Linked DNA regions of Homo sapiens: region 1 is linked to region 2. A link means that fine-mapping ties the variant in region 2 to the expression of a gene that starts in the linked region. Tissue or cell type: monocytes. Region 2 holds a variant in brackets; the other region holds the start of a gene. All regions are shown on one strand. Distances are between the middles of the regions.

The links. PIP is the estimated chance that this variant, and not a neighbour inherited with it, causes the effect.
Region 1: it holds the start of CALCRL, and the variant in region 2 is fine-mapped to the expression of CALCRL in monocytes (TOPMed, PIP 0.95).

Annotation. Positions count from the first base shown.
Region 1 is chr2:187,444,749-187,452,943 of GRCh38, forward strand. It overlaps CALCRL (calcitonin receptor like receptor), which reads right to left and starts at 3,504. Exons shown (of 15, transcript NM_005795.6): 1 at 3,291-3,504. All of the region lies in intron 2 of CALCRL-AS1 (CALCRL and TFPI antisense RNA 1), which reads left to right.
Region 2 is chr2:187,341,953-187,350,147 of GRCh38, forward strand. It overlaps CALCRL (calcitonin receptor like receptor), which reads right to left. Exons shown (of 15, transcript NM_005795.6): 15 at 12-4,447. The coding sequence ends at 4,232. All of the region lies in intron 2 of CALCRL-AS1 (CALCRL and TFPI antisense RNA 1), which reads left to right. Among named protein-coding and RNA genes, the nearest start is that of CALCRL, 100 kb to the right of the region's middle. The variant C/T (reference allele first, on the strand shown) is at 4,764.

The DNA of each region.
Region 1 (8,195 bases), 100 kb after region 2:
TTGAATACATTTCTTCTCTTTTTTGTAATATAGCTTATTATAATTAAATTAATTTGATTTTAAGATTATTCAAATAAGGAAAAATGCAGAGATTAATTGACCTAATCTAATTTACATGGTCCATGTGAATATATGGGAAAAGGATAGATCCATCTGGTTAGAATGTAGACTTGTATTTCTGGTAAGTTTTTATTTTCCACCTATTTGCATCATAATATTTTTGTATATTAAACGAGAAGATGTCTTGAAATAATTTGTAATCCAGTATGGTACATGTACTTTGTCAGAAAAATAGAACATACCTGAGAAATTATGAATGTTTATAGTTTACCCATGGATTTGAAAACCAGATACAGATAAATGTTTTAAATAGCTGTGTACCATTTGTCTATCTTAAGCGTATTCTCCAATATTCTGATTAAGTCAAAACTAAGATACGTTACACACTTGACTCTCATAAGAGCGTCTTTCATTAACACCCTTGCAATGATAGCGCTTGTGTTTATGGTTTAATAGCTTCTCTGAATGCCAAGCATAAGATACGCAATAAAGCAAAAGATTTTAAATACTATTTCTTGAACATATTTGTATTGTGAAAAGTCGATACTGTAATCATTATATCTCCAAAACCAGAATTATTTGATAAAGCTGTATTAAAAGTCATATATAGAGTATGAAATAAATTTTGTTTAGTGAATAAGTTTTTGATCCTTTAAAGATTATTATATTTTTTCTATAAAGATCTAGAACAATCTTTTAAAATTAAGTTACTATCAAACTTTTGCCATGTAGATAAAATTGGTAGCAAAATATTTTTACAATGTTTCCAAATATGATCTAGTTAGAAATATATAATGATGCTATTAACTGAAATTCAGTTAGTGTTTATGTGTTTATCAAATACTTTGTCCACATTAATCTGTAAAGCAAACAAGGTAATCATTTTACCTTTATATTATTTTCAATTTTTTATGAAATTTTATTTCTGTTATGCATGAAAAAATAGTATAATATGTGCAGGTGAACATAAATATTCTTACAAATATGCTAAGTATTGTCTTCATTTAAAATTCATTACATGTTCGGAGTCACCAGTGAGAAAACCATATGAATCTTGCCCATTCATTTAAAATAATTTTTAAAATTACAGACCCAGTATTATTTTAAACAATGTTTTTGTTATTCCAATTTTTCAAAGTGAATGAACAGTTTCATATATTATAAAAATCTACATATTTTAACTTTTAGTATAATGCTTTGGTATGTAAGATAGAAAAAAAATCTTGTAACAATAATCAAAAACATTATCTCTTTAAGAAATAGAATATTTCAGGTAAAACATATTTCAGCTCACATTATTCACATACTATTTCAATTCTATGTTTCATTTTACATATTTAGCATTGACTGTAGGCTCAATGCATTGATTTTATGATGCTACAAGGAAACATCTTCTAGCAAAGTAAATTCATTTCTTTATGGCTAAAAGCATGCATTGATATTCTGATATTTTCTTATCATTAAAGAAAGCACATTTTGAATACAATAATATGAATTTTTATTTCAAACTTCCAGTTATGTCCTCAAATATTTCCTTTGGCTAATGACCTTCAATGTTCATCGCCTAGTGTTTTTCAAAAGTATTTTTGGAAAACAAAGATTATAAACCATACTGTTAGTAAACTCATAAAAATTTAATCAAATTATACAAGAAAATTATGGGTTTGGGACTAGCAATTAAACAAAAATTAAGGAAGTTTGGAGAGTTTCTCATTATAAAATATGATCATAATATAATACCTCCTAAGAAAATAATCTGAATTAAAAATAATGTTGTTTTAATTTTTGTTACTAACCCACGTCATTGGGTTAGTAAATGTGTTGTTTCCACTTTCTCCCCCATTTATATAATGGCTAAAGTCACATTCTAAAAACACTTTTCCCATTTCTACACATGTGTCAGGGAACTCAGTACAACTGAAGATTGAAAAGAGAGAGAAATCAGCCATGATACTCTTAAAGAATCACAAATCTAAGAATTAATTTAAATTTTCATTATATTGAGGAATTTGTGGAAAAATTGAGTTGTAAATTACTGAGGAGTTACTCAGGATGTTTGTAGTCTATTATTAATGTGCCAGATATAAGTGATTAAGTACAGGATGCTTCCAATGCAGGACATCTTGGAAAGTATAATTGCATTTAGGTAAGAAAATATATAACTTAAAAATCATATCTATCAACATCATTTAAAATTTGACATCAAACTTTCTCCAGCAACAAATTTGTGATATATCTACACAAACAATTTATTAAGCAGACATTAGTTTCTTAAATTGTTCAGGACAGTCTGTACTATCGGAATGAGCATTAACAGATGTTTTATCCAACATTTCAGTAAGTTCCATCCTGGAAATTCTTTTTTAATAAATACTTTAATTTCTTTGTTTAATCGTCTAATATACTTCTTTGGGAAAGCTGTCACGTTTCTTTATCCACAGATATCGTGGTATCACACCCCCCTCCAAAAGCTTGCAGAGGGGAACCAGTCAAGTTGAAGTATTCTCTTAAAGATTTCAAAATTAAGAATTGTTTTAAAAATCTACATTTCCTAAACTCTAGGTTTTTTTTTTTCTTTGTAGCCGACACCATGATCCAAATAAAGAGCAAACAGTTCAGGGTTAGCAGAAGAGAGATTTAAACACATCTGGCAACAATGAACACAAAAATTAGTTCAGTAGTTACAGATATATGTGTAAATAAAGGTGAAAGGCAAATAAAAGCAAATGTAATAAATACAAAGTGATTACTTTTCAAAACTCTGCATTATGATCAACCACAGAGTAAGTGAGACTCCGAGACCCATTAAGTAGTTATTCTTTCACCTCTTTCTTACAGCTGATAACATGGAAAGTTTAAAGACCCTTCCGGGGGGAGAAATGTTTTCCAGTTGTCAAGATTCAAGCTTAGCTAATATTAGAGCTAATTTTAAAAGACATTGTTCTGTGATTAAGGTATTTGTTCAGAAATATGTCTTTTAATCCATTTAGATTTTTAATACTTGCTAAATTTATTTTCTAGAATACCATGGTAAACAATATTATCTAGTAGTATTAGATTTTGTATTCATGTTGGGGTAGTAGGCTGTATTTTCTCTAGCATGTGAAATAAGTGAGACTATGTTTCAACATTATTTCAGTGCTATCTACTAAATTCTATAATAGAAACATTGCCAAACTATATGAGAATACTACTTAGAATAAATATATTTATTTTGAATGTGCACTTACCCAGTCCAGCTCTTAAGGAAATTCTTTGTGAAATATTCTCAGGATGGAACTTTACTTTCTGAGATTCCGCAGAAGAGATTTACCCACAAGCAAGGTGGGAAAGAGTGAAAGCTTTGCAATGTGATCCTGCAATTAGGATGAGATTCAGTTAGCAGAGCTTGATGGTCCTAAAGCAGGAGGTGACACTCTCTGCTGGAGAGAGAGAGGTTGTTCTGAGTAGATTGTAAGTGTTGTCAGATTGTAAGTGATCAGCAGCAGAAGGGAAACATCAGAGCTTCCTGTTACATCACTCTGACCCCGCCTGCAGTTAGTGTTAGGTTACTTTCTTTCTCAAATAGCATACCCCAGGAAAGCAGCACTCCTTTCTTATTGTGAGACAAGAGCAAGAAGCAGCCTGAACAGAGAGAGATCATAGGCTGTGTGAATACATTGTTACCAGTAAAAAGCTGGCTGGCTTTCACCTTGACTGAGTTCTGTTAGAACTTGCCAAACAAGCTACTTGTGATTTGAAGGAAATCTGAATATAGTATTCTGCTCAAAGAATCAAAGGAGTTAGGCGTGTGTGTGTGTGTGTGTGTGTGTGTGTGTGTGTGTGTGTTGAATTATAGCTTACAAAGTATCCAGGAAAAAAAATCTAACAAATCTGTGTTCATAGCACAACACAGAAAAAAAAATTAACTGTATTCATCATAACTGGTTTTGTGATTTGGCTCTTCTTAATTTGGAGCTCTGCTAATTGGGTGCTGTTCCTCCATCAGTTCCTAAGTGCAGTTCCTAATCAGTTAATTAGATCAAGAAACTTTATCCTGCAGTTTTTAAATCTTTTATTTTTTCCTTTACCTTCTTCATAAGAACATGAGTGTATGTGTTATAAATTCAGGTTGTGTATGTGTGTGTATAGAGTGTTTCTTTTATAATATATAAGTATATATATTTGACAAAATAGCCTTTTGAATAATTCATAATTTTAAAATTATTGCACACATTTAAAAATATTTGGTATAATTATGTTATTTATAATATAAAATAATTTATACCACAATATTTGTAAGTCAATATAATCTTAAAGAAAATATAGATGTTGTAAACATAATATTATAAAATAATATAAATACAAAGGATACTTTATTTCTTAGACAAAATTTCATCTCAAAGCATAGTTTTTCCTGAATATGTTTAATACATCATTGGATATGATCAGGGGAAAATGTAAATTTAAAATGCTTTTATCATTTTTATAATTTGGTAAATGTTCGATATGAAGCAATAATTATAATCCCTATAACCTAAACAGCACTAAAAGTCACTTAATTTATCAGGGCATAAATTTTCTCATCTATAAACTAGAAGAGATAGATTTTATGTCTAAGGCTTTGAATCGACAAATTTCATAACATTTTGAAATAGATAAGATACGGTGAGGATCATTCAACTCTTAGTAAATTGTTAGTGCAATTCCAGGATAAAATGAGGTGCCATACACCTTGTAGGCAGACAAAGGAGGTAAAGGCAAAATAAATTCAGGAATATCATGTTTTTAAAGCAGGGTGCTCATGTTGACATTTTTATTGTCTGAATTAGTGGAAGAAAATGTTTATACAATCTTTGATTTTAAGACCAGTGAGATCAATATTGATTACAAAATACAGACATATAAAAAATAGATATACTTTCATCTCTATAATTATGGTTAATAGAAAAGACTTGTAAGAAACTGAGTTACACTGGTGAACCGGTTCTGATACTGTCTGGTGTGATCTTGACAAAGCTTTTTAGGCTTCATGTTCCCATCTTGAAATTCAGAGAAAAACAAATACTAGATTTAATATGAAAGTAATAATGGGTCATGTCTTCTCATCTTCCATGCTAAGTGTAATATATGAATCCTATAAAGAGATTAATATATAGTTTTTGAATTTAATTAAATCATGGAAAACTAAAACTTTTCCCAATATGTTTATAAAAGCATTGATATTTTCGTCTTTCCAAAGATTCATTTTTCTTTCTTTCCTTCCTTCCTTCCTTCCTTCTTTCTTTCTTGATGGAGTTTTTGCTCTTGTTGCACAGGCTGGAGTGCAATGACGCAATCTCAGCTCACTGCAACCTCCACCTCCCGGGTTCAAGCAATTCTCCTGCCTCAACCTCCCAAGTAGCTGGGATTACAGGCGCCCGCCACCACACCCAGCTAACATTTTGTATTTTTTTGTAGAGACAGGGTTTCACTATGTTGGCCAGACTGGTCTGAAACTCCTGACCTAAGGTGACCCGCCCACCTTGGTCTCCCAAAGTGCTGGGATTACAGACATGAGCCCCTGCGCCTGGTGAGATTCATTGATTTCATTTGCCCAATACTAGTAAGGTCTACTGAAGGAAAAAAATTCATGTTTTGAGCTCATGTCATAAGACCCTTAATCCAATGCTCTTTCTCTTCTACTCTCTATCAAGTGCTATACTTTATGGGGTGTCTAGTAGAAGTTGTATCATTTATATTTAAGTTGACGTACACATGGGCCCATGGCTGTAGTCCATGAAGACTCCTTGATAAATTTTATTAATATCATCTTTAATTCTTATTTAGACATAACAGGAAAATTGCATCCTAGTAATCCTCAAGAGCTGCCATTTTATAAACTTCAGAAAAAATAAATGGTACAAGGACTTCCAGGAAGGCATTCAGGGTATTCTAAGTTATGTAGGAGCAAGTGATAAGATAGATCATAAAAACTTCTCTAATACCTACTGAAACATGAAGGCAAATGTTTGGAAAACTGTAGCAGAGCTAAATGAAAACATTTCAATAATCAATGAAGCAATTTTGAGCCAACGTGGCATTATATGGATTTATATATTATAATCTTTCTTCAGAAGACATTAAAGCCACTTGCAATAATTTAATTAGTAGTGACCAAATTTGTATTTTGAGCTAGGTAATGTGCTAACTGTGTTTTAGTGAGATAAGTAAAAATAGAATGTTCCCTGCTATCTAGTCCTTTAATGAACAGATTGACTAGCACATGAGAAGTCAAGGGCCAAATTCTGTGAAATTAGCAACTGATGCTGCTAACATAGAATCTAGAGGTAATGATGCAGAGCACTGCAATAAGGTTTTCTGTAGAAGTGAGGAGTGGTGTATAAGTGTAGAAATATATACATGTAATGATGGACAGTCACACATTTTCATTTTAGCATCCTACATGCAGGATTTGTGCTTTTATTTGTGCTCACACATAAGGCTCACAAGCGACCTTTTCTTCCAATAGGGGATACTAGTTACTATGTCAAATGCAAGTTGACTCAAAATTAGGAGTAGGCTAACTCCAAGTTTCTGGGCTACTGTTTATATTGAATATGTTAGTTAAACCAGACCAAAATGTGGTTTGACAAATTTAATTTTCTACTGACCAAACTGACCACTTATTTTGAATTTGTATGGATACTGCCTTGGAGCATAATTCTTGCCACAAGAACAAACAAAATAAAGCAGAACACTTTTACAGGAAATATATTAAGGACAGACTTTCCCTAGTGAGAGTGCAAGAACAAGTCAAAAGAAAGACTTTTAAAATAATTATTCTGAAGTTTTAAAAGTTATTATTTTATGTTAATAATTCTTCTGTGTTCTTAATTGTCTGAAAGCAATTACTTATACTTGGTGATAATTTATGCAGTCAGCAATATTATATATAACTTGCCTTATGATAAATGCACCAATAATTTGAGGAGAAACACATAAACTTTACATCAGAAGCTTATATGTTTAAAAGCTTTACATTAAAAAACTACTTCTAGCAAGGAAATAAGTTGACCCAACCTTTTATTATTTTACCTAGCAATTGCTGTTAGCACTTTTCAAGTTGCTTTTCAAAACAAAAATAAATTGCATTTAGTAAAAGAATCTGGGTACAATGTCTGGGACATGAGAGTGAATATGCTATTATCTATTACTAAAACCAAAGGGCCGTTTTTCACTTTAATTGGGCACATAGCTATCATTTTAAAGAAGATTACAATATTATTTTAAAAATAGTTACTATGAATAAGAATTTGGAAGGTGCAGAAAACTATGTTTGAAATGAACAGTATATATATCAGGTCAGATATACAGAAATGTATACCAGGTTAATATACAGATAAATAAAACTATTTTATAGCCTATATGTAGAGTTTCTTTCAGTATTTAATAATGTATTTTCTCAAGAAAGCCAAGTAACATAAAAAATAATTGGCCAAACATTTGCCTATTTTAAAAATTCTTATATCCTGATGGATTTAGATCTTCCTGCGAACTTAGTATTTTCTTACAGATATTCATGAGTGTTGGAGGGGTGGCTATTGCTAGAATAAAGTGCTAGTACTGGCTAGTGAGCTATGTCATGGACTAATTCAAATGGATTTTTAAATCCAACAAAATTATAAATGCTTACTTTAAATGGGAGTACACAATGAACTTTCTGAGGGGAAATACCTTCAATAGAGTGATCATATGTCCTAGTTTTCTGGGGCAGTCCCAATTCATAATTTCAGGCTCAAAAATGCTCTGGTTTGAAGAAAAAAATATTATTCAGTATATGGTGAACTTAGCCATACTTATCAATAGAGCAATGACAAGTAGCACATAAATACTAAGAGTGTGTGAGTAATTTATTTGGGAAACCCAAATCTTCTTTCCAGAAGAGTTTAAAATAGTTCTTACTATTTCTAGGATGGTTTTAGTTAGCATCAAAAAAGATGCCCTTTTTAATTCTGGATATGCATTTAATGTGGATTTATTCTGAAATGCCTCTTATTTGCTAAATATCAATCTTGATTGTGAAAATAAAAGGTTTATTTATATTTGTATTTAGGCATTTCGACTTAAGTAGTATTTGATTAAATGACCAATCCCTATATTTTACATAAATAATT
Region 2 (8,195 bases):
GCAAACAAATGTTTATAGGTATATTATTTATAATAACCAAAAGGTAAAAGCAAAACAAACATATCCATCAACAGACAAATGAATAAATAAAATGTGGTATGTTCACCCAATGGAATAAAAGGAAACATTGATACATGCCAAAACATGAATGAATTTTAAAAACATAAGTGAAATCATTTAGTCACAAAAGGTCACATACTATATGATTACAATCATATGAAAGTCTAGAATAGGGAAATCTGTTGAGACAGAATGTAAATTAGTGATGTTTATAGCTGAAATGAAAGTAGAGATAGAGGGATAGAGAAGTGATGGCTAAAGGATACACTGTTTCTTCTCAAGGTCATAAAAATGTAATGAAATTGGTGATGGTAGCGTGTCTCTATGGATGTATTAAAATATACTCTACTAATATACTAAAAACTGCTTTGAATATGAAGTATTATATGATATGTCAAGTATATCTCAATGAAGCTGTTAAAAAGTGCACTATGGTTCTAGATTTGTAAAACCAACTTGAGGAGGTCTATATTGTAATTAACACTCTCATGTACCTATCTCAACAATAGGCCAAACCTTATTAAACTAGCAATATTTTTAATCAAGAATATTCTTTCTTTGAGATTAGTATAATCACAAGGAGGAGAGATTATAAGAAAAAAACACAAGTGTTTTAAATGGGCATTTTCTCCAGAAAACAGAAAATGATGTACATTATTATTGATCATAAAAATAAAAATTAGTTATTAAGTGGAATGCAACTGATTATTGCCCTAAGGATAGAGTGGTTTTGCACTTATTTATAAATTTATTTCAACATTTTTAATATTCTCATATAGTGTGATATTTTGAATTCTCCTTTGAATTTTTGTAACATCTTACTTGTTCCTTCATTAATTAATGAGTTAAACGAAATCTTTGAAACATTTTCATTTTATATTTGTGTGAGAGCCATGAATATGCCCTCTTTAAAAATTACCTTTAAATACTTATTTTTCTTTCTAATATTTAAACAAAACTACAAAATGAAATATAGTAGATAAAGGAGATGAATTTCTGAACATTTTCTTATTTTGAGACATCCTTTTTCTTCTTTCAGCATAAGAAGGAGTTTGCATCCATTGTAGTATAGTTGGATTTTTTTAGTTTGAAAAACAAATCATGACTTTTTCTTAATTGGTTTATTGAATTCATTTACTGGTTTACTGAAGACTTTAAAGAGGGCAAAAGATATATTTTGTTAAGAGATTTGTTAATTTTGAGAAGTATCCCATTGATTACTGTAAGAATTATGTTTATAAATTAGATTATTTGGCACTGTAGTAAATATCAGTGAAAATAAACTTTAACTCATAACTTTAATATTTTCATACAATCAAAAAATAGAGATATACTCTAGGCATAACATAAATTGTTATAATTGATCAGAATATCTTGAATATATTTTTACAGATAACTAGTGGTTTCTACTAGCAGATTAAAACCAAGAGAAAATTAAAAGTAAGTTCACATTTAAAAAAAATTATAAGCAATAAATACAGCACTACAGCCACCACTAATTCTATATACATTGGATTACATTTAAACAAACACTGCATTCCAGAATGAATATTTTATGAATAAATGCATTGGAAATTAACTTTAGGAAATAAAATGACAAATTAGAATTTAGAAAATTAAAATATGACTTTCACAAGTAATCACAGTAAAATGCAGATCTACATTTTAAAAGCTAGAAATTTCCCCAAATTTATTTTTTTGACAGCAAAGAAGTTTGCTTTAAAAAAAGTGTCAGATTTACTTTGCTTTATGAGTATGATACAAAGATATTAAGTAGCATTTAGCTTTTGAGAAATCTAACATTTAAAACTATTCTAAAAATATATGGGTACAAAACTAACAGTGATTAATCATGAATGACTGCTACGCCTCAAGACTCTACAACAGACAAACCCTGGCTATAAAATAAATCTGATCTAGAATTAATATTATAAAAGCACAACAAAAATACTTGAAAATTACATGTTTATTTTAATATAATCTCTGATCATTCAACATTTTTTACTGTCACTTCTACTGTCAAGATGGTTGAGAGTTGACAGTTTGTCTAGAAGAAGGCTGATATATGTCAACATGGTCAGCAAAGGATTTAAATATGGGTCTTTGAATAATAAATAGCTAATAATTGAGTTTATTAAAATGAATTTTTGTATAATTTAGGCAGTTGAAGGTCTAGAACAGCCTGCGTTCCTTTCTATGGCAGCTTGCTATGAAATTCATGTTTCAAACAAAACAATACTTTTTCATGCATAGATAAATTATAAATGTACTGACCAGACCATTCTATATGTTAATTCTTACGAATTTAGATAATTTGTCTTAGCAATTTGAAATAAGTTCTGAACTCACCATCTATTGACATATTGACAGCTTAAGAAACAACTTATGATGAGTAATTTGTTTCATCCATTTTAATCAGATTGACACACTTAAAAAACAGATACCCATGACTTTTCCCAAAATTGACTTTTACTAATTGAAGTCATTCTTGTTCTTTAGAGATTTCAGCGGAAAATAACATTAGAGAAACTGAATCCCATGCAAATTTCACTTTAATTCATTAGCAAGGTTTTCTTCTATCTTTATTTAATAAAGTCTGACAATAATTCAGTAAGATCTGACAATAATTTTTTCTCAATGATATATTCAAGTATTTCCCTAATTTGTATTATATACAGTAGCTCTATTAAAATATTAAAGCATTGTATATGGTATATATAGTATCCTTCTAGTTTTTTATATTTCTTGAATAGCCTGGGACATTTCCAAAGCTATATATCTTCACATAGTAAAAGTCAGTAAAGTAATATTTTAATGGGGTAAAATCTATAAAAGTAGCAGATTGGTATTTATCACAGTAGTTGTTTAAAATTTCTGGATTAGAATGTGAGTTCATTGTCAAAATGAAAAAAGAAATATGTCAAACACACCTATTATTAAGGTATGAGTTATCAAAACAAATATATTCAATAAAATAGTGACCTTGTGTTTTTAAAATAAATATATCTTATGATAGATGTTTCTGTTCTCTTAGTTCTCAAACAGACTTCTGATGCTGGCATCTGGTTGTCTTTAAAATATTTACCAAATATAGCATTCCAGACTCTATTTTATTTAAAAAATCAGCCCAGATACAGTATCAGATATTAACATACACACATTGTTGCATTATATATTTGCTTTAAAAATTACATAGGTTGTATGTATTTGATTTGAGACTATAAAATAAAATAATGGAGTATTTACAAGCTCATTTTTCACAATTTCTTTTTACAAAATTCCAAGAAAATAAGAAATCCTTCATTGATTTTCTTTATATAAAATGATTGCTAATTTGTTTATACAGTAGAAATGGAAGGGACAAAATTTATATTTACAGCTAGGAATTCCCTCCCACTGTTTGGTAAGACAGGAAGAGGTTGACAAGGTGTTTTGTAGCATCAACTAAGATGTTTTCCTAATGATATAGAAGTAGGATTGCATATTATACATCCTGTTCATCCAGTTTCCACAATGGATATGCCACAAGATATAACTGATGTGTCAGCAAATGAGTAGATCATAACAATTGTACTCAGTTGCTTTTCATAGAGAAAAGAAAGCCAGCAGGGATAATTCACTTCTGGTATTGTCCATTTGAGAGGGTAGTTACAAAAAGGACTACGGCACTCTGGGCAAAAAAAAAGTCAACTGCCCCAATCAAGATGGGATAAAGAGTTTTAAAACTAAAAGCTAATTTTCCCTTCATGTTTATAGACCTTAGCTAGGTCTCTTGGGGCAATAAGGGTAGAATCATGCCCAACATGTATGTTTAGTTTTACAGCCATTTGTTTGTGAATTCATGCAATGGTGTGCTGGAACTGGCTTACACCAGCTCAGAAAAGTTGATTGTGCTTTTCTCCAATTCCACACTTGGTGATGTCAGGTTAGTAGCGTCACATCAGGCATAGTGGGAGTATTTACTGACAAACATTACAAACCAGGATTTCTTTTTTCCCACATAGAGCTGGATGTTACACTCTTATCAACACACTACTAATTTCATGTGAAGGCTCTTCTTTATGACATTCAAAAAGTCATTTAATATTGAAGTCTTCTGGCTACAGAGTCATGGGTCCAAGTCCTTGAGTTAGGAGAAGCACAAAACAGTGAGACAACCATCCTTCTATTTTCAATTATATAAATTTTCTGGTTTTAAGAGAACATTTTCAATATCATGGATGCTTTTTCCATTTAAGTGTTCACTAGGACAGTCATGACTATAACCTGGACCATCACTGATTGTTGACACTGTGTAAGACGCACTACGAAGAGCTTCTGAGTTGGAAAAGCTGTTTCCAAATTGGATTTTGTATTGATTCCAGTTTCTTCTCAGAATTGCTTGAACCTATCAATCAAAAGGAAAACAGAAAGAACAAGAACAACCCATTAATTGAAATGAAGACACTGTTTTTGAAGCACAATTAAATAGGTCTTGGAGAAGAGCTTTTTTAAAAAAAGTTATGTTAATCAGTGAATAATATAGCTTCATTTTCTTAATTTAAAAAATTAAGTGTACCATCTTCACATTAGGAAATGTATTACAATTACATTGTACTTTACATTCCATTAATATTTTTCATGGCATGTTTTGTCTTCAAAGCTTTTATAATTCATATGTATTTATTGTTGCCAAACAAATAGGTAATCTGGACCCCCATTTA[C/T]AAGATTTCATGTGCAACATTGAGTTTTATATTAATGTCTTTATTAATAGAATGAGAAGACAATTCGTGACAGGATAAGCGAAAGATACACAAAAGAAAAGAAGTTAGGATACGAAGAATACAAATCAGCAGCAGCAGCAGCAGGGCAGTAGCAGCAACCTTTGTTTCTGAGTGACTCCCATATGCCAGAAATTGTGCTACATTCTAAAAAAGGGAGCATGATATTTGTCTTCATGGAGCTTACTACATAGAGGAAAGAAAAGTGTTGAACAAATAATTATAAATCTGGTGAATATTGTGAAAAATAAATTTAGGAATGTAACCACTCCATTTTTATATATTTGAATCCTCTTCTGCTGAATAAATTTGCAGTTTAATGACTTCCTTCCCCTCTGTTTGAAGCTAGAGATCAGGGGTAGGTGGGTCCTATACAGTAAAATATTGGTCATAATGGAATGTAAGGCACAAGAGTGAATTTTCTTCATTGTCAGTCAATGGGCACAAATGAGAACATTTAAATACATCTCTAGCTCAAGTACGTTGAGGACTTTTCCATGTCTGATGAGTGAGCACACTGGCTTGGAGCAGCCTGCTTTTAGGTTATGAATGTGTTAGCCAAATCCTTGTGACCCGATCTATATCTGCCCAGAGTGGGTTTGCTTTGAATGGTCTTCCCCAAGCTCTCTATTGCTCTTTGGCTCTTTCAGTGCTTTTCCAAAGGGAATCTGAGCATCTCACAGCAATTTTCTGGTAATTCATTTTCTACGTACTGAGGTATAATTGTTTAACTTTCTACTACTTATATAGAATTCCTCAACTTTCTCTTCACTATATCCATGTATACAAATCAATATTAAATCTTTAAAAAGGGCTTACTTCTCTCTTGTTATTTCCTAGTCTAATGGATTAAAACACACACACACACACATACACACACACACAAAACCTCAATTCCTCCAATTACAAACATTCTATAGAAAATAGGTGTTCCAGGATGTCTGCAGCTTTACAGGATACTTCAGAGTTCCTGTTAAAGTATCTTATAGTCTGTCACTTAAAATAAACTCAAAGTTTTATTGTCTCATTTCATGTAGGAAAAAAGAAGGAGCAAATATAAAGCCAACAATGTGTTTAGGTAAAATTAAATGAGGTATTAAAATTATCAGTTAATTTCACTCTACTATATAGTTCAAAAATTATATAATTAAAATGAAATAACTTCGTATTGAAAGTTACATTATGATGAAGTTCAGTAACTTCAGCCCTTTCAAGCTCAATTTAAAAAATATATGGTAACCATATCTGAAGAAAACAATTTATATTCATGTAAATATGCTTTGAAAATAAAAGCATTTATAAGGCAACAAATTTATTTATCTTGCAAAAATTAAACTTTCCTCTCAATTTAGTAATATAATTCTAAATCCTCCGTATAAAATATCTAAATTCAGATAATTTAAAAATAACATCTGCATATGTAACAACCTCAAGATCATGAGCAAACTACAAATTGAATGGCTTCAGATTGTGAATTTTAAATACATATTCAGAGATTCAAAATAAAAATGACCATTGACCAATTATCTAGATACATCTGATGAGAAATATTTTTGATCCTTATTTTTTGTTTCATAAACTTCTCCTAATTTTGTTACTAAATGCTGAATTGGTTGAGTATGTAATCAATATAGTTTCTGGTTGAGGGGAAGTGGCATATAGCTTTGTATAAAAAATTCTATATAAAGTATGAGAAAAAGCTGAGAGGAAGTAATATCTTAGCTGTGAGTCTAGTACTTATAGTCTTAAAAAGGAAAGCTTAAATTCAATTTGGAAGGAAAATGGCTATTGAAATATATGACTGTTTGCTCTTAAAATATCTACTTTGATTAAGGTCATCACTCTATTTCTTCCTTGCAACTAAATCATCAGAAAAACCATAGAAAGCCAATTTCATGAACTGTGAGGTCTTACTATAGTTAAAAATAAACCTAATTAAAGATCCACAGGCCTTGTAGACTTGTTTGTTTATGTTATTTGCTCTAAGGATGTTACATTTTTCTTCTGCTTCCTCTAATACAATATCACACCTGTTAAATACGACATTAAAGCAGCTACTCTTAATAAACTTTTAATGAGAAAAAATCAGTAGGAGCAAATTTCCATTGTAAGGGAAGATAGCTGGGTGTTATTAAAGATATGAATGTTTTTATTGTTTTATGCATGACCATGTATAAGTAGTAAGGCAAATGTTTAGAATGTAACATTACAACTTTATATACCCATTAACACCCAATAAGGAACTAACTTTATACTCCTTAATGGGAATCAATTTAAAATATTTACGAAACTTTTATAAAAATTCTACGTAGTTCTCATGAAAGAATTTGGGTTTAATTGTCTGTCCTCAACAAAACTTTTTGCTCATCTTATGGAATATCTACCCTCAGGTGTTGTTAAATATAACCTTCTGATGACTAGAGTCCCTAGTTTATGATCACAGTGCACATTTTTGTCTGAGGGCACTAGGGATAAAATGAAAGTAATCCAAGCACTTGTCAAGCCACATTTATTTAACTAGTGAGAAATGCTAATAGCAAGACGTTAGCTAAAAAGTGCATAAAAGGTGGGAAAGAAAAAAACACAAATATTAAGCTAAAGGCAGGCATTTGACCTAATGTGGAAAACAAGAAGGAAACTAAGCCTGAGCAAATGATTTTAAGAAGTACATGACATAGTTGGAACAAAATGAATTTGGCAGTTGTTTCTTCATGTTATGAGAGTGGGAAAAAGTAAGAGGCATTGAGACAAAAAGGGAGGGATCACAGTATTTCTTAAGAAGAGAAATGAATCATACTGAAACAGGGATTGTATCTCCAGAGATGAAGAAAAGGAACAGATATTAGAAATGTTGTGAGGAACTGAAAGATTTGGGAACAACCTAGCTCAAACATTGTGTATTATTGTAATTTTCCAATGTCAAAATTTTCTCAATTTTAGGACATGGCAGAAGATCAAGGTTCTGTGTCCCTTTTGTTTACACAGATCGAGTGTAACAGGAGTGTTAGGCATTACTTTAGATATTCCCTGGGCACTCTTTCTAAATAAAAGAGCCAATTTGGGATTTTGATCCAAAATGATTAATGTTCCTGTTGGCACATGTGTTTTTGAAAATAAGTGATTTGACAAATCAAATAATAAGTATACTGAGAATCTCATGAAGTGGGGCATGGTGCTAAAAACTTTATCTTTCTTAGCTTGTATTTATTTTTCTGAGACCTGTGTAGAGAACTTGCTTTAATTTCCCTTTAAGAAAGATAGACACAGGCTCCTGAAATTTGCCAGCATTTGCCAAAATATCACAGCCAAGATGAAAAGTAGCATCTTTGGTGATTAAATGCATTGCTGTGTTTATTCTACACTGCCTCCTGTTAC